Regions from separate parts of the Homo sapiens genome. Here region 2 is linked to region 1. A link means that fine-mapping ties the variant in region 1 to the expression of a gene that starts in the linked region. Tissue or cell type: whole blood. Region 1 holds a variant in brackets; the other region holds the start of a gene. All regions are shown on one strand. Distances are from middle to middle.

Region 1 (10,990 bases):
AAAGTCATATTAGTTCCTATTATGAACTAATACATAGGTGCAAACTTTCTGATAATTGAAGAAACCTTTAAAAACATTTTTTTTTTGAGACGGAGTTTCGCTCTGTCGCCCAGGCTGGAGTGCAGTGGCGTGATCTTGGCTCACTGCAAGCTCCGCCTCCCGGGTTCACACCATTCTCCTGCCTCAGCCTCCCGAGTAGCTGGGACTACAGGCGCTCGCCACCACGCCCGGCTAATTTTTTGTATTTTTAGTAGAGATGGGGTTTCACCGTGTTAGCCAGGATGATCTTGATATCCTGACCTCATGATCCACCCACCTCAGCCTCCTAAAGTGCTGGGATTACAGACGTGAGCCACCACGCCTGGTAAATACATTTTTAAAAGCCAAAAATTTTTCACAGTTGATCTTCTTTCATGCATATAATGGCTGGTGTAGGGCCTTGAGAACTGCTAGACTTCCTACTATGTGAAGGTATCTACAGAAGCTTCAAATATAGGTCAAGAAGCAATGAAGGTATTTCTGTTTTACCCTGATGTATTAAAAAATCAAGAAATCTAGTTACTAGATCATGTTTTTAGTTTTGTTTGTTTGTTTGAGATGGAGTCTCGTCCCGTGGCCCAGGCTGGAGCGATATGGTGCAATCTCAGCTCACTACAATCTCCACCTCCCAGGTTCAAGGAATTCTCCTGCCTCAGCCTCCCAAGTAGCTGGGATTACAGGTGCCCGCCACCATGTCCAGCTAATTTTTTTTCTTTAGTAAAGATGGGGTTTCACCATGTTGGCCATGCTGGTCTCGAACTCCTGACCTCGTGATCTGCCCTCCTCAGCAATCCAAAGTGCTGGGATTACAGGCGTGAGCCACCCCGCCCTGCCTATGTTTTTAGTTTTAATGAAATTAATCACTATTAGAAACAAATGCCCTCAAAGACCTATTTCTCAAAGCTGGAATCGTAAATCTCAGGACTCAAAACTACAAAGAATTGACTGACGATGGTGCTGATGAAGGGATACTGGTCAAAACTTAATCACATGGCCATATCTACCTATGAGGGAGGCTGGGAAATATAATCTTCAGTTTTGTATCCAGCTAAAAACTGGGGTTTTGTTGTTAAAAGTTAGAAGGCCAGAATAACCATTAGAGAACCATCAGTGGACTCTGCCACAAAGAAAATTAGCTTTAATTCAGATGATGTCTCCAATACAATTTTGACTCCAAAACCAGACATGAGCAGTATAAGAAAAAGAAAATCCCTGGCAAAACTTACTCATGAACATAGGTGCAAAAGTCCTAAACAAAATACTCGCAAGTGAATCCAACCGTTTTATTAAAAAAGAGAGTGCGTTATGACCAAGTTTTATTTATTCCAGAAATTTAGGGTGGTTTTCACATTTAAAATTGTATCATAATCATATACTACATTAACAAATTAAGGGGTAAAAATATAGGCATCTCCATAGCTGCAGAAAAAGCATTTGCCAGATTTACTTATTCATCATAAAAACTCTTAGTAAACTAGGAATTAAAAAAAAAAATTAACCTAATTAACAAAACGTGTGACTCATCATTCTAATAAGGAAATGTAAGAAATAGAAGATCAGTTCCCTTAAAAATAAAAAAAAAGACAAAGATGCCAACTCTTGCCACTTCCATTCAAGCTACATTGGAAATTCTGGGCAATGAAACAAGAGAAGAAAAATAAATGAAAATCATAAAGATCAGAACTAGGGCCGGGCGCGGTGGCTCATGCCTATAATCCCAGCACTTTGGGAGGCTGAGGCGGGCGGATCATGAGGGCAGGAGATCAAGACCATCCTGGCTAACACGGTGAAACCCTGTCTCTACTAAAAATACAAAAAAAATTAGCTGGGCGTGGTGGCAGGCGCCTGTAGCCCCAGCTACTCAGGAGGCTGAGGCAGGAGAATGCTGTGAACCCAGGAGGCAGAGCTTGCAGTGAGCCGAGATCACACCACTGCACTCCAGAGACTCCGTCTCAAAAAAAAAAAAAAGACCAGAACTAAACAACTCTCATTAATGACATACAATATCATTGTCCCAAAAGAATCTACACATAAAATATTGGAAATCAGTAGACATTTTGGCAACATCAGATATAAGATGAATATTTGAAAATCCACTACATTTCTATATACCAGCAACAGAAATATAATTGTAAAAAATTGTAAAAAAAACTCATGTAACACACAACAAAACTATAAGTTACATAATAACAGATCTAAAAAAAAAGATGCTCAGGATACATAAGAAAAAATACAATATTTATTAGAAGGCATTAATTAAAACCTAACTAATATGAGAGTTATACCATGGATATTTAGACTCAATATCACAACAATGTCAGCACTGTCCAAACTGAGATATAGACTCAATACAATGCCAATCAAAATTACAAGTTGATTCTGATATATGCAACAGGCCAAAATGCAATGGGCCAGAAATAGTCAATTTACTCTTCAAGGAAAACAGTGAGATGGCAGGACTTACCCAACATCAGGACTTCTTATAAATCCATAGCATTTTAGACTGAATAATATTAGTGCAGGTTTAGACAACTTGATCAATGAATTAGGTTAAAAGCCAAAAAGCAGACCCACAGATATATAGAAATTTTTTAGATAACAGAGATCAATTGTAGGTCAATTGGAAAAAGTTGGGCTGTTCAATAAACGATGATTATTCTAGCATATACTCTTACATATACTGCTGGTGGGATTGGAAATTGGCAAAACAATCTGTGAACTTGAGCATTTACATGCCCTAGAATTCATCGATTGCACTTCTCTAGAAGAAACGCTGGTGCATGGGAACTGCTGCATACAGAGATTTATGCAAGAATACTCACAGCATTACCGTTTATCACAACCAAAAAAAAACTATATACAATATGACACCATTTTTACAAAGCTCAAAAACAAGCAAAAGTAAACAAGTAAAGTTTGTAGATACAAACATATGTGATGAAGCTTTTTTTTTTTTTTTTTTTTGAGACAGAGTTTCACTCTTGTCGCCCAGGCTAGAATACAATGGCGTGATCTTGGCTCACTGCAAACTCCGCCTCCCGGGTTCAGGTGATTCTCCTGCCTCAGCCTCCTCAGTAGCTGGGATTACAGGCGCATGCCACCACACCCAGCTAATTTTGTATTTTTAGTAGAGATGGGGTTTCACCATGTTGGTCAGGCTGGTCTCAAACTCCTGACCTCAGGTGATCCACCCGCCTCAGCCTCCCAAAGCGCTGGGATCACGCCCGGCCGATGAAGCTACTTTTTTAAAGCAAGGAAATAACAAACACCAAAACTCAGGGTAATAGCTATCTCTTCAAGGGAGACAGGCATACAGAACAGGAAAGAACACATAGGCACATACAACCCTGTTGATAATGTTCTAATTCTTAGATGGGGTAGTGGGTTCACAGATGTTCATTTTGTTAGCATGTCTCATAATACATACTTTGCATTTGTTATTTTATATATAAAATTGCTAAAGAAGAAAAAACTCCCTCAAAGAAAACAGCCCCCACTTAGCAACAGTTAGGAACAGTAAGTCCTCAGTTATAGAGGGTGAAAGACAGCTTCTTCAGCAGCCAATTTCCAGCTGAATTTGACTTGAGCTGCTAGATTCGGTCAGAAGCCTGGGTGGGCAAGATGTGAAGGAGAATCAAGCCAAAAGGTGGAAGCTCACTCTGTACCCTGGGAAGTAGAGAAGGGCAGAGGCTTGCCCAGTGCCACACAGCTCACTGATGGAGAGTCAGGGTTCGCGGACTGACCAGTGACGTACAAGGAGCCAGAAGGGAAGACGTGAGGGGTGGCGGGTAGCACCGAGGCCGGCCAGGCCAGGCACAGGACTGCAGCCGTCTCTGGCATGCGGCCCAATGCTGATCACAATCAGATTCCCACCAGAGCGGAAGAACAGGACCCCGCCAGCACCTCCCAGATCCAGATCCAGGCTCAGACAGGAACCAAGCAGAACTGCTATCATCTTTGCGGATCAGGGTTCCTGAAGATTAAGGAACCAGATGTTAGGGCTAGAGAAAAAAAGGGTGGGGGCCGGGTGCTGTGGCTCATGCCTGTAATTCCCACACTTTGGGAGGCTGAGGCGGGCGGATCACTAGGTCAAGAGATCGAGACCATCCTGGCCAACCTGGTGAAACTCCGTCTCTACTAAAAATACAAAAATTAGCTGGGCGTGGTGGGCGCACGCCTGTAATGCCAGCTACTCGGGAGGCTGAGGCAGGAGAATCGCTTGAACCTGGGAGGCGGAGGTTGCAGTGAACCTAGATCGCACCACTGCACTCCAGCCTGGTGACAAGAGCGAGATTCCGTCTCAAAAAAAAAAAAAAAAAAAGGGTGGGGGGAAAAATTTCCCTTTAGGGTGGTTGTGAAGAAAAGGGTACCAGGTTCACCCTGTAGAAATACTGCCCTTGGGGCTCTCTTTTTATCCTATCCTACATCCACCAGCCCTTAGCCTAAGGCTGCCTGCTGCGGTTTGAGGACAGGACAGACACCTTCCCACTTATCCATCAATTTCTCTAATGTCATCGGTAGCACCCAGTGTCTAGTTTAGGTTTTTCTACCCTCCCTTCTCCGATGTTCTTATGGCACTACAGATGCTGGGAACAGTTCTGTATCTATATGTCGTGCCTCATTTTATGATTATTTGCCTCATTTCATGATTATTGCATTCCCTTTGGAGGGCTGTCAGCGTGTGAAAGTCAGGCCCATGTCTAACTTCTTTTTTTTTTTTTTTTTTTGAGACGGAGTTTCGCTCATCACCCAGCTGCAGTGCAGTGGCTCGATCTCGGCTCACTGCAACCTCCGCCTCCCGGGTTCAAGCGATTCTCCTGCCTCAGCATCCCGAGTAGCTGGGATTACAGGCGCCCACCACCACGCCTGGCTAATTTTTTTGCATTTTTAGTAGAGACTAGAGTTTCG[C/A]CATGTTGGCAAGGCTGGTCTTGAACTCCTGACCTCAGGTGATCCACCCGCCTCAGCCTCCGGAAGTGCTGAGATTACAAGCCTGAGCCACCACGCCCAGCCCGTCTAACTTCTTTTTATTCCCTAGCAGCTTATTCAGAATATTATGCATAAAATATCTCAATATTGATAAAATGTAAACTGTTTAAATCTGGGGAAGAAGGAAAACGCTGTAAAACTATTATTGCCAGCCACTAACCCTTTGGTATAAATTAGCTTTCAGAAGTTTTTTTGAGGTATATTTTGTTAAGGAAATTCAAAGACAGTTCAAGGAAACTTTCTTTTTAATTATAAAGTTTCTTGAAGCAAAAGGGGAAAACAATATGTGTTTGTTCAGAGAAGGTTTTTTGAGCGGGGAGGAGACAGGGTCTCACTGTCACCCAGGCTGGAGTGTAGTGGCAGTATCACGGTTCACGGCAGCCTAGACCTCCTCAGACTCAAGCGATCCTCCCCCCTAAGCCTCCCAAGCAGCTGCGACTACAGGCACAAGCCACCTCACCCAACTATTTTTTTGTATTTTTTGTAGAGACAGGGTTTTGATATGTCACACAGGCTGGTCTCAAACTCCTTGTCTCAATTGATCCACCCATCTCAACCTCCCAAAGTGCTGGGATTACAAGCATGAGCTACTGTGCCCAGCAAGAGATGATTTTTTTTTATCATGATTTACTCATGTCCTAAAATACTACAGAGACATTAAAAATAACGCGATCTCTACAGACTGACATGGAAGGATATCAGACATGTTACTAAGTTGAAAACAAAACAAAACCTTGCAAAACATTTACAGCGTGATCTTATTTTTGTTAAAAACAAAATTTTTAAAAATACACACATCTGTGTTGTGGAAAAGTTCTGAAAAGATATCAATGAAATAATAAACAGTTATTTCCCCTAGGGCATGCTTTTTAAATGTATAATGTATATGGATTACCTGAGGGTATTGTTAAAAATGTTAAAATTCAGATCCTGATTCAGTAGAGCTGGTGGGGCCTAAGAATCTGCATTTCCAACAAGCTCACAGGCAGTGATCCTGGCTTGCAGAGCCAGTTTTTACATTTTCAGGAATTTTGTGGCTCTGTTGTTAAATACATTCATTATTAAATACTAAAGTATATATAATCATCGTAAAACAAGTTACATTTAAGACAGAGATAACGACTCAAAACTCATACTTCCTAATTATTTTATATTTTACTATTATCTATACCCTTGAGGTTATACATACCAATGTCTGTATCTGTGTGATGGAAATGACACATAATGGTGTGTTACTGTGAAGTCTTCCCAGTTTTCCATTGAGTAACATCACATGGGTGGCATGGAATCTGACACGCTGGAAATAGTTACACCACAGAAATTGGCAGACACTACAGATCATGGCTTTTCTTCCAAAGAGTCACTTGTTAAACATTGATCAACACACCACTGCTCCCAGGCACACAGCACCAGCCTAGGACACGAAATTGATGTGGGGAAAGATATTTGGTGTTTTTTCCCTTTTATTTTTTGTTGACGATAATTGTCCATTTTTTATGGGATTCAAAGTGGTATTCTGATACATGCATATGATGTATATTGATCAAATCAGGGTAATTAGCATATCTAACATCTTGAACACCGATCACTTCTTTGTGCTGGGAACACTTAAAATCCTACCTTGCAGCTTTTTGAAACTATACTTGAAACTATTGTTAACTACTTTCACCCTACAGTGGTACAGGACACTAATGCTTATTCCCCTCAGCTTAGCCAGCTGTAACTTTGTATCCATTAACCAGCCTCTCCCCAATGTGGGGAAAGGTTCTATGAGTGAGAGGAGGAATGGGTGCTGACCAGGAAGGCTATGAACATTAAAGATGAATTTTTCTACACCAAGATTGTCTGTATTCCTAGCTCGTTGGTAGCATGGAGTACTTAACAAGTATTTGCCAACTAAGAGAATGAATCAATGCTGGCTGTGAAGAGAACCAAGTAAAGTTTCCGTTGGAAAGCACAGGAAGCCCACTTCACTCCCACAGGAGCTGGGGATGAGAAAGAGTGGGGGTGGGTATCTGCTCCTAGGGGGCCCTGGCAGGGGAAGCCCAGGACTGGCCCTCTTGCTGACTGGCACCTCAACATTTCCTGTACGGTTTTAGTTGCTGCACCTGAGAGGCAGTATGTACTTAACTCCTCCCCTGGAGGTCAGCAAGAGAGGCCCACGGCTGCCCAAACTACTGGCCAAATAAACAAACAGCCAGGCCAGGAAGCAGACAGCGGGGCCCCAGTAGACTCTGGGACTGCAGCAGCAGCCACAAAGTCTGGAAAAGGCTGAGCCAGAACCCACACCCCGATCCCTTTTCTCCCCCCCAGCCCCTCCCCTGCCACCAGAACCTTCTGTCTAATGCTATCTCTCCCTCTATCCCCTGCCTTACTCCTCTGACCCCTCTGGGCAAAGTTCCATGATTAATGGAACCATCCATTCCTCAGCTCCTGCCCTTTCCCTTGCCACCAATCCGAACTCTCCAGAACTGAGGTCAGAGCAATGGCCTGGCTGGCCCGGCGGCCATCTGAGCAGACCCAGGCCAAGCACTCCCTCCCCGTCACTCTCCGAGTATCAGGTCCAGCCATCCCTCCTCTGAACGCCATGCAGGGGCAGCTTGGCTTCTGGGCTCTGCACAGCAGCACATCCAGCACACGCCACTCAGCGTCCTATAAGCGTCTACTGAGCCCCGGCTGTGTGCTTGCTGGCATTGCTGTCGAAAGTGGAGGTACAGATTGCCAGACAAGACACACAAAGAGCTTACACTTAATGGAGGGAAAAAGCCAAAAAACAAGAAAGCAAATATAAATCAGATGGTGATAAGGGCTAGCAAGAGAATAAAGTAATGTAAGGGGGACAGCAAGTGACAAGAGTGGGTGGTATTTATGCAGAATAGCCCCGGAGGGCCTCTGCGACAGGTGCCACTTGAGAAGAGACCTGATATTGAGAGGTGACAGCGTGCTGGCAGTCCTCACAGCCCTTGCTCGCTCTCGGCGCCTCCTCTGCCTGGGCTCCCACTTTGGCGGCACTTGAGGCCTTCAGCCCACCGCTGCACTGTGGGAGCCCCTTTCTGGGCCGGCGAAGGCCGGAGCCGGCTCCTTCAGCTTGCAGGGAGGTGTGGAGGGAGTGGCGCGAGCGGGAACCGGGGCTGCGCGCAGAGCTTGCGGGCCAGCTGGAGTTCAGGGTGGGCGTGGGCTTGGCGGGCCCTGCACTCGGAGCAGCCGGCCAGCCCTGCCGGCCCCGGGCAACGAGGGGCTTACACCTGGGCCTGCAGCTGCGGAGGGTGTACTGGGTCCCTAAGCAGTGCCGGCCCACCGGCGCTGCGCTCGATTTCTCGCCGGGTCTTAGCTGCCTCCCCGCGGGGCAGGGCTCAGGACCTGCAGCCCGCCATGCCTGAGACCCCCCTCTTCCGTGGGCTCCTGTGCGGCCGGACCCTCCCCGACGAGCACCGCCCGCTGCTCCACTGGCACCTAGTCCCATCGACCACCCAAGGGCTGAGGAGTGCGGGCACACAGCGCGGGACTGGCAGGCAGCTCCACCTGCAGCCCAGGTGCGGGATCCACTGGGTGAAACCAGCTGGGCTCCTGACTCTGGTGGGACCTTGGAGAACCTTTATGTCTAGCTCAGGATTGTAAATACACCAATCGGCACTCTGTATCTAGCTCAAGGTTTGTAAACACACCAATCAGCACCCTGTGTCTAGCTCAGGGTTTGTGAATGCACCAATGGACACTCTGTATCTAGCTGCTCTGGTGGGGCCTTGGAGAACCTTGTGTGGACACTCTGTATCTAGCTAATCTGGTGGGGAGGAGGAGAACCTTTGGGTCTAGCTCAGGGATTGTAAACGCACCAATCAGCACCCCGTCAAAACAGGCCACTCGGCTCTACCAATCAGCAGGATGTGGGTGGGGGCAGATAAGAGAATAAAAGCAGGCTGCCCGAGCCAGCAGTGGCAACCCGCTGGAGTTGGCTTCCCCAATGTGGAAGTTTTGTTCTTTCTCTCTTTGGGTGCACGCTGCTTTTATGAGCTGTAACGCTCACTGCGAAGATCTGCAGCTTCCCTCCTAAGCCCACAGAGACCATGAGCCCACCAGGAGGAATGAACAACTCCAGACACGCCGCTTTAAGAGCTTGTAACACTCACCACGAAGGTCTGTAGCTTCAGTCCTGAGCCAGTGAGACCACGAACCCACCAGAAGGAAGAAACTCCGAACACATCTTAACATCAGAAGGAACAAACTCCAGACACGCCGCCTTTAAGAACTGTAGCACTCACCGCGAGGGTCCGCGGCTTCATTCTTAGTCAGTGAGACCAAGAACCCACCAATTCCAGACACAGTGTGACAGACAAGCCATGGAGAATCTAGACAAAGAGGGCTGCACGCCAGCACCGTGAGGCAGGAACACGCCTGCTGTGCTCTAGGCACACCCAAGTGAAATGCTGAGGGGCAAGGTGGGAGCATCAGTTAGGGCCCTGGGGGCCACGAAAAGAATTTGGAGTGTCCTCTGAGAGAGATGGGGACCACTGGAAAATTGCGCAGAAAAGTGACATGGTCTGATTTACGTTCTAAGGAAATCGTTCTGGGTGCTCTGTTGGGAACAGACTGCGTTAGCGGGGGTGGGGATGAGGGTGGAAGCATGGAGAGTCATTAGGGGGCTAAAGCAAAGTTTAGGCCAAAGATGATGGGGGCTTAGAGCAGGAGAGGAGGGATGGAAAGGGGTGATCCGGTCATATTTTGAAATAGCTCTGGCAGGATCTGCTGACGAAGTCTACATGGGGTGGGAGAGAGAGAAGGGTGGAGGATGGCCCAGGTTTTGGACCTGAGAGGCCTGAGTCTGTATCATAACCAGCCTGCAAGGCAAAAATGGGTCTCGTTCTTCCTCACCATATCCTCAGGAATGTGGAGTGGGTGCCGGGCCAGGACGATGATCAGGGAGAGAGGAGGGGAGCAAGGACAAAAAGACGACATGGGGGAACCGGTAGGGGAAGAAGGAATATCTACACTGTGAACATTCCTAAAGTCCTGCCTCCCCCACGAAGTCTGTGGGACTAATCTGACGAGTGATGACTTCCTGACCCTTCTCAAGGGAATTCTTGCACCCACCTCCCCTCCACACTTCCCAGCTTCAACTCCCATCCTTGAACAAAAGCAGCACGTTAGTAACCTGCTGGTTGAGAAGTAACATAGGTCACTGTGGGATTCACTATCACATGGTCAGGCTATGAACTTGACTGCTGCAACAGCCCCAAACACCCGGGAGGAAATGAGCTAGGATGCATTTCTCCCTCATGGAATTCTCTGAACGTAAGTAGTCCAGGGCTGCTCAGCAGCTCCACAGGGCAGAGAGCCAGCCCCAGCTGTTCCACCCTGGGAGGCTGGCCTCATCTCATGGGCTCAGACAGCCCATCACCACATCTGCCCTCTGGACGGCCAGAAGGAGGAAGCTGGGTCAGGGGCGTGCGGGGATGGAGCTGCGGGTCCGGGGAATGAAGGAGGGAGGCCCCTGCCGCTTAAGGACATGCCCAGAGGTTGCCTCCGCCCCTTCTACTCACATCCTATTGGCCAGAACTTGTCCCTGTGGCTACCCTGGGTGTAAAGGAGCCTGGGAAATAGAGATTTTATTCTGGGGAGTCATGTCTTCAACTAAATCAATGACTATGGTAGAAGGAAAGGCGAATTTGGGGCCAGTCATGGTGGCTAACACCTGTAATCCCAGCAGTTTGGGAAGCTAAGGAGAGAGGATCACTGGAGTCCAGGATCTCAAAACCAGCCTGGGCAACATAGTAAGACCCCGTCACTACAAAAAATAAAAAATAAATAGCTGGGTGTGGTAGCATGTGCCCATAGTCCCAGCTACTAGAGAGGCTGAGGTGAGAGGATCACTTTGAGCCTGGAAGGTCAAGGCTACAGTGAGCCGAGATCACACTACTGCATTGCAGCCTGAATGACAGAGTGAGAACCTGTCCAGAAAAAAAAAAAA
Region 2 (9,495 bases), 31 kb before region 1:
GCCTTGGTTCTCCATTGGTAAAACTGGGATGACTACAGCTACATCCCAGGGCTGTTGTGGGGATGCAGGGACATGGCAGGGACAGTACCAGCCCTTCTGCAGGAATACAGGAAGTCCTCAGCATAAGCTGATGTTCTGATCCACAGGCCACCAAGAAAACAACAACGAGTCTTCTCTCTGGCAAGGAGTTTTACACGTTCCAAAGCACCTTCTCTAGTTCATCATTTGCCTTGATGCTGTGGAGTTCCCAGGGCATCGCCGGGCCCCAGAGCAACGGACACAGTGGACTACCAAAGATGAAGACTCTCTTCATCCATCCCACCCGGCTCCCGTGGGGAGAGACCCGGGGAAAGCCAAGAGGGGCTACGTGTCACAGAAAGGCTGTTCCTCTCCTTGTTCTCAGCAGTGACCTTTCCGCTCAGACACTGTCCTGAGAGCAGGAATCCTCCCCCACACCAGGGCTAAGCTCAGCCAGCCCTCCCTCTGAAGTCCTCCCTGCAGTGCCCAGAACTCACCAATAATCGAGAAGGAGCGTTTCTGGCAGCCCCCTGCCAGGAGGTAACTGCAGTATCCCGCAAAGCTGTACATGCTCCCATCAAAGGTGTTGACGAAGTCACTTCCGAAAAGGCTGCATCGGGCCGTGGATGACCTGCCGCGAGTTCCTTCTGCACAAAGGGTCCCTGGAGGGAGAGGCCACAGGTTGGGCTGGTGATCTCAGGGCACAACTGGGACCATCAGCTCAAACCTCTCTGGCCTCGTAGAAATTAGACTGCCTCTGATAGAAACTGGGCTGTGGGGAGGTATTTTCCATCCTAAATGAGACTAAAGCTGTTGCTTTCAGCTCCCAGATATGACCCCAGACTCACAGCAATAACTAAGGAACAGTTTTTCAGGAAATCCATTAGTTTCAATGACATTTACTTACTGATTTAAAATGTCATCATGTCCATTATTAAAAATTTGGGGCATACAGAAGAAAACAAAGAAGCTGGCCGGGCACAGTGGCTCACGCCTATAATCCCAGCACTTTGGGAGGCCGAGGTGGGCAGATCACCTGAGGTCAGGAATTCAAGACCAGCCTGCCCAACATGGCGAAACCCTGTCTCTACTAAAAATACAAAAACTAGCCGGGTGTAGTGGTGGGCGCCTGTAATCCCAGCTACTGGTGAGGCTGAGGCAGGAGAATCACTTGAGCCCAGGAGGCAGAGGTTGCAGGGAGCCAACATCATACCACTGCACTCTAGACTGGGCGACAGAGTGAGACTCTGTCTCGAAAAAAAAAAGAAAAAGAAAAAGAAAAGAAAAGACAAAGAAGTTAAAACCATCTGTAACCCAACATTCAGCGATGATTAGAGTTAACATTTCAATGTTCATCTTTCCATTTTGTTGTATAGCATATATACAGCTGTGGGTTTTTTATAAATTGGTGACCAACTTGTGCAAACTACCTATAACCTCTGTTTATTTCTCAATAGATTGTAAACAATTTGTCGTGCTAGTGTATATACTTCCAATATGCGGTTTTTAGTGGCTGCATTATATTTTGCATCTGAATGTCTATAGTATAGCCCTCTATTGTTAGGTTTCTAGCATTTTTCCATGTTTTAATATTATAGATAGATTGCAGTGAGCATCTTTGTACATAAATCTACTAGCATGTCTTGGGCATGTTAAATTTTAAACAGATCAGACTGTGTGCCTGACACATAGACTCTCTGAAGTGTGAACTCCTCCGGCGTCACAGGCTAACTCCTTCACTGACTATGGGTGTGTGTGTGTCGGCAGGTGGGGAAATACAGCAGTAAATCTCTAAGTGTTCTGGGTTCCCCGGCAAAAGACCCACCTAGTAGGAAGATGCAGAGAGTGTGACAAATGTGTATTTTTTTTCCCAGACTCACCTGTGGGCAGTAGCTGGATGCTGCTGACCTGAGAGATCTAAGTGGAAAGCGCCCAAGGTCAAAAGTCCCCTCCCGCCATTTGCAGACCCAGAATCTTAGCAAGGGAAGGGCAGCAGTATGATGCAGTGCAGTGGAAAGGGTGTTGGCCTGGAACCCAGGAAGACTGACCTCTGATTTTGGCTCTAGGAGACTTTGGAGCAGTCATTTCTCCTCTCTGACCCTCAGTCTCTTCATTGTACCATGGGAGGTTCAACAAGGTGACCTCCACAATCTTATCGAAAACTAATAATCCATCCAAGTCTTGGATTCCTTCCTCCTCATCCTGTGCCCCCATAATATAGGACAGTTCTGTGCCACCTTTATGCTTCTTAATTCCCCAACAGGAGATGGCATTTGCAGGCACCTGGTCTCTGGAATACAAGTCAAGGGTGGGAACTCCGCAGAACCTTCACAGGAGGCAACCAACAGCCTAAGTTAGGGCTGGGCACACAGGTGAGCTCCAGACACACCTGCTGATTCCCGGAAAGGTGTCACTCCAGATGGCCCTGGGGCAGGAATGAGAAATGGAGGCCCTTTTGTACCTACCTGGCAAAATGAGGGCCAGAGCAAGCAGCACCCCGGCAAATCTGGCAGGAATCATCTGCAAAGAAGCAAGAGACGTGAGCTGGTCATTGCTGCCCAGGTAGGCGGCTGCTGGTGTGGCGACTATCAGGGCATGCAGTAGCAAAAACATTTCTTTAAAGCAGGAGAAAAGATTGATCCTCGTGACCCCCTTTTCCCCTTTGAACATGGACTTCTGGCCCCCGAAAAAACCCCTGGCCAGTGCCAGGCCCAAGGGTAACAATCGCTGTGAGCTGGGACCTGTGGGCACCTTTCCACAGACAGCAGTCCCAGGCCCAAGACAGGAGGAAAACGCTGCCTTCCCTCCAGGCCCGCTGGGCCTCACATCCCTGCCTCCTGAAGCAGCTGGGAGCTAACACACACCTCATTCCTTCCTGCCTCTGCATCCAAACTGGCGAGTAGGAACCGTCTTACACTTGTGTGCCCACCACAGCAGCCCAGACATAGAGAATGCTCAGGAACCACCAACTTGACGGTTTGCTTGTTGGCCCCTGACTCTGTACCACAAGTGCCTTCACAAGAGCAAAGGCTGTCTCCCTTGCCTCCAACCCCAGCACCTGGCAAGATGCTTAGCACCCAGGAGATGCCCAGCAAATGTTTGCTGAGTTCATCTGAAAAAATGGACAGGAGTCCAGCGGCCCTGGATGCAGGCAGACTTCCCCACTGTGTGACCCCCAAGAGAGGGACAATTCATCCTGGCTGGCAGAGCGTACCCCAAGTCACTTAGAGCCCCTGCTGTAGCCCCTCTCCTCGGGAAAAGTTGTTAAATGAAGTGCAGAATCTGCTGCCTGAGATTCACTGGGGGTGACTCCCTTCCTACCTAAGGTCCCATCCAGCCAAAGGTGAAATCAAGCCAATCTGTGATACATCTGTGGAAGGAACACTGAGATGTCAGATACTGCCAGGTCTCGGTCTCCAAGCAGGTGTCCCCTCCCAGTCCTAACACGCAGGTACATTCAGCTGCTCCCAGGTTCTCAGAGGTGAGGGCAAACTTCATTCCAACTCATTTGAGTGAAGTACTATCAAACAGTAAAACCCACTGCATGAAGAAAAGCAGCCCCAGGACCCTCAGAGGCAAGTGGAGGAGGGAGTATTAGGATCATCCCTGGCTGAATTGAATTGCCCCTCCAAACAAAGCCCTTCTAGTCCAGCGACAGAGAACTCCAGCTCCCCAGGAGCAGGGATCAGTCAGTCCTGCATCTTCCTCCCACAACTGAGCCAGCTCTCCTTCCAAAGGCCATACCTTCCCCTGCAAATGAGGGCTGCGGCTATCTCCAAGGTCCCTGGGAAACTCAGCTGCTGGACAATGGTGCCGCCCACCCTAGGCCATGCTCTCAGCTGCTGCAAAGGCTCAATCAGGTCTGCTACAGCTCCGGACTGTCTTGCTGTTATGTAGCCCAGGGGCTGTGGAGTCCCCACTGCTGGGGGAGATAAAGCCCAAGCTGTGACATCCACCAACCACCCTCCCTTTCCCACCACAATAGCTGTGAGCTGCCACAACAGGGGATTGGCCTCCTTTTAATTACCAAAAGGAAACAATGAAAGGAAATGGTATTAGAAGTACCTCCAAGCTGATAAAGCTTTGTAGAGTTTGGAGGGAGACCTCCTGGCAGCTGCCTTAATTAACTGCCTTGCCCTCCCCAAACACCCCCTATCCCTACACCCCCACACTTGATCCCTGGTCTTCCTAGAGTGCCCCACCTGTGTGGGATAACCAGGAATGCTGGTTGTTTCAGGGCAAGCTGATACAGGCCAGGGGGAATCACAGTAGAACAACACAGCTTCCTGATCCAGCTTCCAGGGCTGGACTCCAGGGAAGTTGAGAAAAACACCTCAACCTGAGCCAATTTTGCTGCTGTGTTTGGAGGAAGGGGAGTACTAACACTTCCTATGCACCCCAGGTATGAAGGATCCGGTCCTGGCCCTGACAAAAACAGTCCATTTGGATCCTGGCCAGGGTTGAATGGATCGGCTAAAGATGAAGGTCTTGGCCACAAGCCTAAGCCTTTGTAAAATGGTGAAGGTGGGGAGTGATGGTTTGAGTCTAATACTTCTACTGTTGCTACATTCTAATAATTCTAATTCTCAAGGACATTTCCACCCACTTCTGGTACCCTGATCTTACACACACACACACACACACACACACACACACACACACACAATTCTTCTTCCCAGCCTCCCATTCCCAAAAGCCTAATTCTCAACACCATCTGCTAAACTAATTCCTACTAAAATAAGTAACTGATGCAATGGGCAGCGGTGGGGGGAAGATGACTCTCGTGCTGGGATTCCAGGCACTGAGACAAGCACCCTGAGGCATGTCTGGGTATGGAAGACCTCCTCACTGCTTCTCCATGATACCTCCTGCCCTAAGACTTTGAGAAACCACTAGGTTCCAACCTCCTCCCTTCCCACATACCTCGCACTCTGCTACTCCCTTTACCGCCCCAGGAGAGGAAGATGCACACTCCCAAGGAAGAAAAATGGCACCAGAGGCAGAATCAGCATGAGACAGTAGAAAAGGCCATTGGGGGGCCGGGCACGGTGGTTCACGCCTGTAATCCCAGCACTTTGGGAGGCCGAGGTGGGCGGATCACGAGGTCAAGGGATCAAGACCATCCTGGCTAACATAGTGAAACCCCGTCTCTACTAAAAACACAAAAAATTAGCCAGGCGTGGTGGCGGGCGCCTGTAGTCCCAGCTACTCGGGAGGCTGAGGCAGGAGAATGGCGTGAACCCGGGAGGCGGAGCTTGCAGTGAGCTGAGATCGAGCCACTGCACTCCAGCCTGGGTGACAGAGCAAGACTCCGTCTCAAGAAAAAAAAGAAAAGAAAAGAAAAGGCCATCGGGATTTCCACTTCCAGCTCTTATTTAAAAAAACTAAATAACTAATCTGAAAACCCTTTCATTACAAAATATCTTTAAATGCTGTGCTAAATACAACAAATGTTCTTTAAATCCACAGTTGATCTGGGAGGAAAGTAAGGAATATCTTAAAGGGTCAATGAGGAAGAGGAGCCTAAATGAGCATGAGGCAGGGTAGGCCCATGGGTGGCCTAGCGTAGGCCAGTCTGGGAACCCTCCAGACTGGAGGCCGCACATTACAAGAATGGGCAGTGCAGCTACGGGCCTGACCCAGAGGGAGAACTAGAACGGAGATCCCTGCAAAAGCTGAAAGTTTGAAGGGAAACATCTTCCAAACAGTGGACCAGGAAAAAAATCCATCCCCCAACCTAGAAGATAAGGAAGTTTGCCTGTCTCCACTTGTTTTGGGGTGGGGTGGCGGGGGGAATTAAGTCTTTTTTTAGAATATTCTTTTCTTTCTTTTTTTTTTTTTGAGATGGAGTCTCGCACTGTCCGCTGGGCTGGAGTGCAGTGATGCAATCATGGCTCACTGCAACCTCTGCCTCCCGGCTTCAAGCAATTCTCCTGCCTCAGCCTCCCAAGTAGCTGGGATTACATGCACACACCACTACACCCAGCTAATTTTTTGTATTTTTAGTAGAGATGGGGTTCCACTATGTTAGCCAGGCTGGTCTCAAACTCCTGACCTCGTGATCTGCCCACCTCGGTCTCCCAAAGTGCTGGGATTACAGGCGTGAGCCACCACGCCCAGTCTAGAATTTTCATCCTTTGCACTCATGCAAATAAAGCTCTCTTGACGATGAATTCAAAATCACAAATTTTTCAACACTTGAGAAAACAATCTACCATGAGCAAGAATTAAATCCCTAAGAATTTCAGATAATAAAATCATCAGAGAAAGATAAAAAGAAAAAAATGAGTGTTTAAAATTATAATAGAGGCTAGGCACGGTGGTTCATGTCTATAATCCTGGCACTTTGGGAGGCTGAGATGGGATAATCGCTTGAGACCAGGAGTTCAAGACCAGCCTGGGCAACACAGCAAGACCCTGTCTTTACAAAGAATAAACTTTTTTCAAGGCAGGGCACGGTGGCTCACGGTGGGTGGATCACAAGGTCAACAGATCAAGACCATCCTGGCCAATATGGTGAAACCCCATCTCTACTAAAAATACAAAAATCAGCTGGGCATGGTGGCACGCACCTGTAGTCCCAGCTACTCTGGAGGCTGAGGCAGGAGAATCGCTTGAACCCGGGAAGCGGAGGCTGCAGTGAGCCAAGATCATGCCACAGCACTCCAGCCTGGTGACCGAGTGAGAGTCCGTTAAAAAAAAAAAAAAAAGAAAGAACAGGAGGAAAACTTGAAAAAGAACTTTAAGGCCAGACGTGGAGGCTCACACCTGTAATCCTAACACTTTGGGAGGCAGAGGCAAGAGGATTGTCTGTGCTCAGTAATTTGAGACTAGCCTACACAACACAGCAAGACCCCATCTCTACAAAAAATAAAAATAAAAAATTAGCTGGGCCTGGCGGTGCATGCCTGTGGTCACAGCTACTCAGGAGGCTGAGGTAGGAGGGAGGACCCCTTGAGCCCAGGAGGTTGAGGTTGCAGTGAGCCATAATCGCGCACTCCAGCCTAGCCAATAGAGTGAGATACTGTCCCAAAAAAAAAAAAAAAGAACTTTAAGAAATGTATATAGTAAATTAATTGAAAAATTCAAAAACACCAGATATTTTTGGGAAAAAAAAAGCTGAAAAATGGTTCTAAAGAAATCACTCAAATATAGAGATGAAAAAATGGAAGAGCAGCCAGGCACAGTGGCTTATGCCTGTAATCCCAGCACTTTGGGAGCCCAAGTAAGGCAGATCACTTGTGGTCAGGAGTTCGAGACCAGCCTGGCCAACGTGTTGAAATCCCATCTCTACTAAAAATACAACTATTAGCCTTGCATGGTGGTGCATGCCTGTAATTCCAGCTATTCAAGAGGCTGGGGCAGGAGGATTGCTTGAACCCAGGAGGCAGAGGTTGCAGTGAGCCAAGATCACACCACTGCACTTTGGCCTGGGTGACAGAGTGAGACTCCATCTCAAAAAAAAAAAAAAAAAAAAAAAAAAATGGAGGCAGAATTAAGAAACATGATAGAATTAGAAGATCCAAAGAGAAGTGCTGAGAGAAGAAGTCCATTTGTGGAGAATTCTATATGCAGTGTCTTAGTTTGAAGTCCCAGAAGCAGACCCTGAGTATTTTAGTGTAGATAATTGATTTGGGAGGACAGGAAGCATCGGCAGGGAAGTGGGAATGTGATACGGGGCAGGGAAAGCAGTCAATAAAAGATGTTTATTATGCCAGCCACCAAGTGGACAAGAAAGCTTCCTTCTGGAGGGAAGTCTGGGAAAATGTAAGATCCATGCCTCTGAATCTTCCCACTCTTGGGTCAGGGAGCAGGAGAGTTTCTACACTTACTCCTTCCTGTCAGTTATTGTCAAGGCTGCTTCAGGAGGCATTCAGCCCTCAACACTTCTGGCCCTCAGGCACGGAGGAGCAGACACTGGTAGTCTAGAAGAAACGGAGAGATGGGGTTAGAGGGCCGTGGCAGAGGGACTGTAACATCTGGTCTACCTGTAAATTATTGTTCAGAGTTGAGGAAACATAGACTTTTTTTTTTTTTTTTTTTTTGGAAAAACAGAGTGGGCTTAACATTAACAGTCCTTTCTGAAGAAACTACTAAAGAAGGAATTTCAGGGAGAAAAAACATTTTTTGTTATTGTTTCTGAGACAGGGTCTCTGTCACCCAGGGTGGAGCGCAGTGACACAGTCACAACTCACTGCAGCCTAAACCTTCTGGGCTCAAGCGATCCTCCCACCTCAGCCTCCCTAGTAGCTGGGACTATGGGCATGTACCACCATACCTGGCTAATTTTTGTATTTTTTTGTAGAGACAGGGTTTTGCCATGTTACCTAGGCTGGTCTCAAACTCCTAGAGCTCCTGGGCTCAAGCAGTCTTCCTGCTTCGGCCTCTCAAAGTGCTGGGATTACAGGTGTGAGCCACCTCGCCCTGCCAGGAAGAAGAAAATTCAGCCTAGAAACAGGATGCCAAGAAAAGGTAAATAAATAAAATAGTAAATCTGGGGGTAAATATGAGCAGGCAGTCATTATATAAAACAATAACAATGGTAATGATAAGTTGGAGAGTTATTAAAAATTAGAACCAAAATACCAGATAGCAATGACATGTAAGACAGGAGTGAAAGTGTATTAAGGTCCTTGCATGGCTCAGAAGGAAGAAACAGGTCATGATCACTTTAGACTTAGTTAAGGCTATACTGCATAGTAAGATTTTAAGGGAGGCTACTGAAAGAATAGAATTGAATGTATGTTTTCCAAACCTATCGAAAAAAAACAAGAAATTTTTAAAAACTAGATTGATCTAGGAGAAAAATGGAAAAAGCAAGACAAATAGTATAAAATGTAAATGCAACAGTACAAAAAATTCAAACAGATCAATAATCAATAATAAAAAGGTAGAGATTATCAAATTGGATTTCTTTAAAAAGGCACACAATCCAGCAATGTTCAAGAGACAGTCCTAAAATATAAACACACAAAGACCGTAAGGAAAAGAAAGGAGAGGCAAGTGATGGCCAAGGAAAAGCGTTTTATACCACTATCACACACAGTGGACCTTAAGATCAAAGTCATCATTAGCACCAAAGAGTAGAAAAAGGTGATACAAAGATCAATGCACCAGGAAGATGGAATCTATAGATTTATGTGCACTTCATAATATAAGCTTAAAATTTATTTTTAAAAACGATTAAATTATAAAGCAGAAAAGCTTTCAGTTTTGTAAAAGTCAACAACACCCAGTTATGGAAAACAAGTAAACAAAACACTTAAGTAACCTATAAAAAGAAGGGAAGGTCCTTGGCCTGAGACACAGAGCATATTTCATACTTATGGTAAAATGGAAGCCACTTTCCCTTTAAAAACCAGAACAAGGCCGGGCGCGGTGGCTCACGCCTGTAATCCCAGCGTTTTGGGAGGCCGAGGCCTGTGGATCACGAGGTCAAGAGATTTAGACCATCCTGGCCAACATGGTGAAACCCCG

The links. PIP is the estimated chance that this variant, and not a neighbour inherited with it, causes the effect.
Region 2: VWF starts here. The variant in region 1 is fine-mapped to the expression of VWF in whole blood (TOPMed, PIP above 0.99).

Annotation. Positions count from the first base shown.
Region 1 is chr12:6,151,345-6,162,334 of GRCh38, forward strand. All of the region lies in intron 1 of LOC124902866 (a long non-coding RNA gene), which reads right to left. Among named protein-coding and RNA genes, the nearest start is that of VWF, 32 kb to the left of the region's middle. RefSeq lists an enhancer at 7,673-8,246. The variant C/A (reference allele first, on the strand shown) is at 4,948.
Region 2 is chr12:6,120,659-6,130,153 of GRCh38, forward strand. It overlaps VWF (von Willebrand factor), which reads right to left and starts at 4,012. Exons shown (of 52, transcript NM_000552.5): 1 at 3,763-4,012; 2 at 2,484-2,538; 3 at 516-680. The coding sequence starts at 2,538.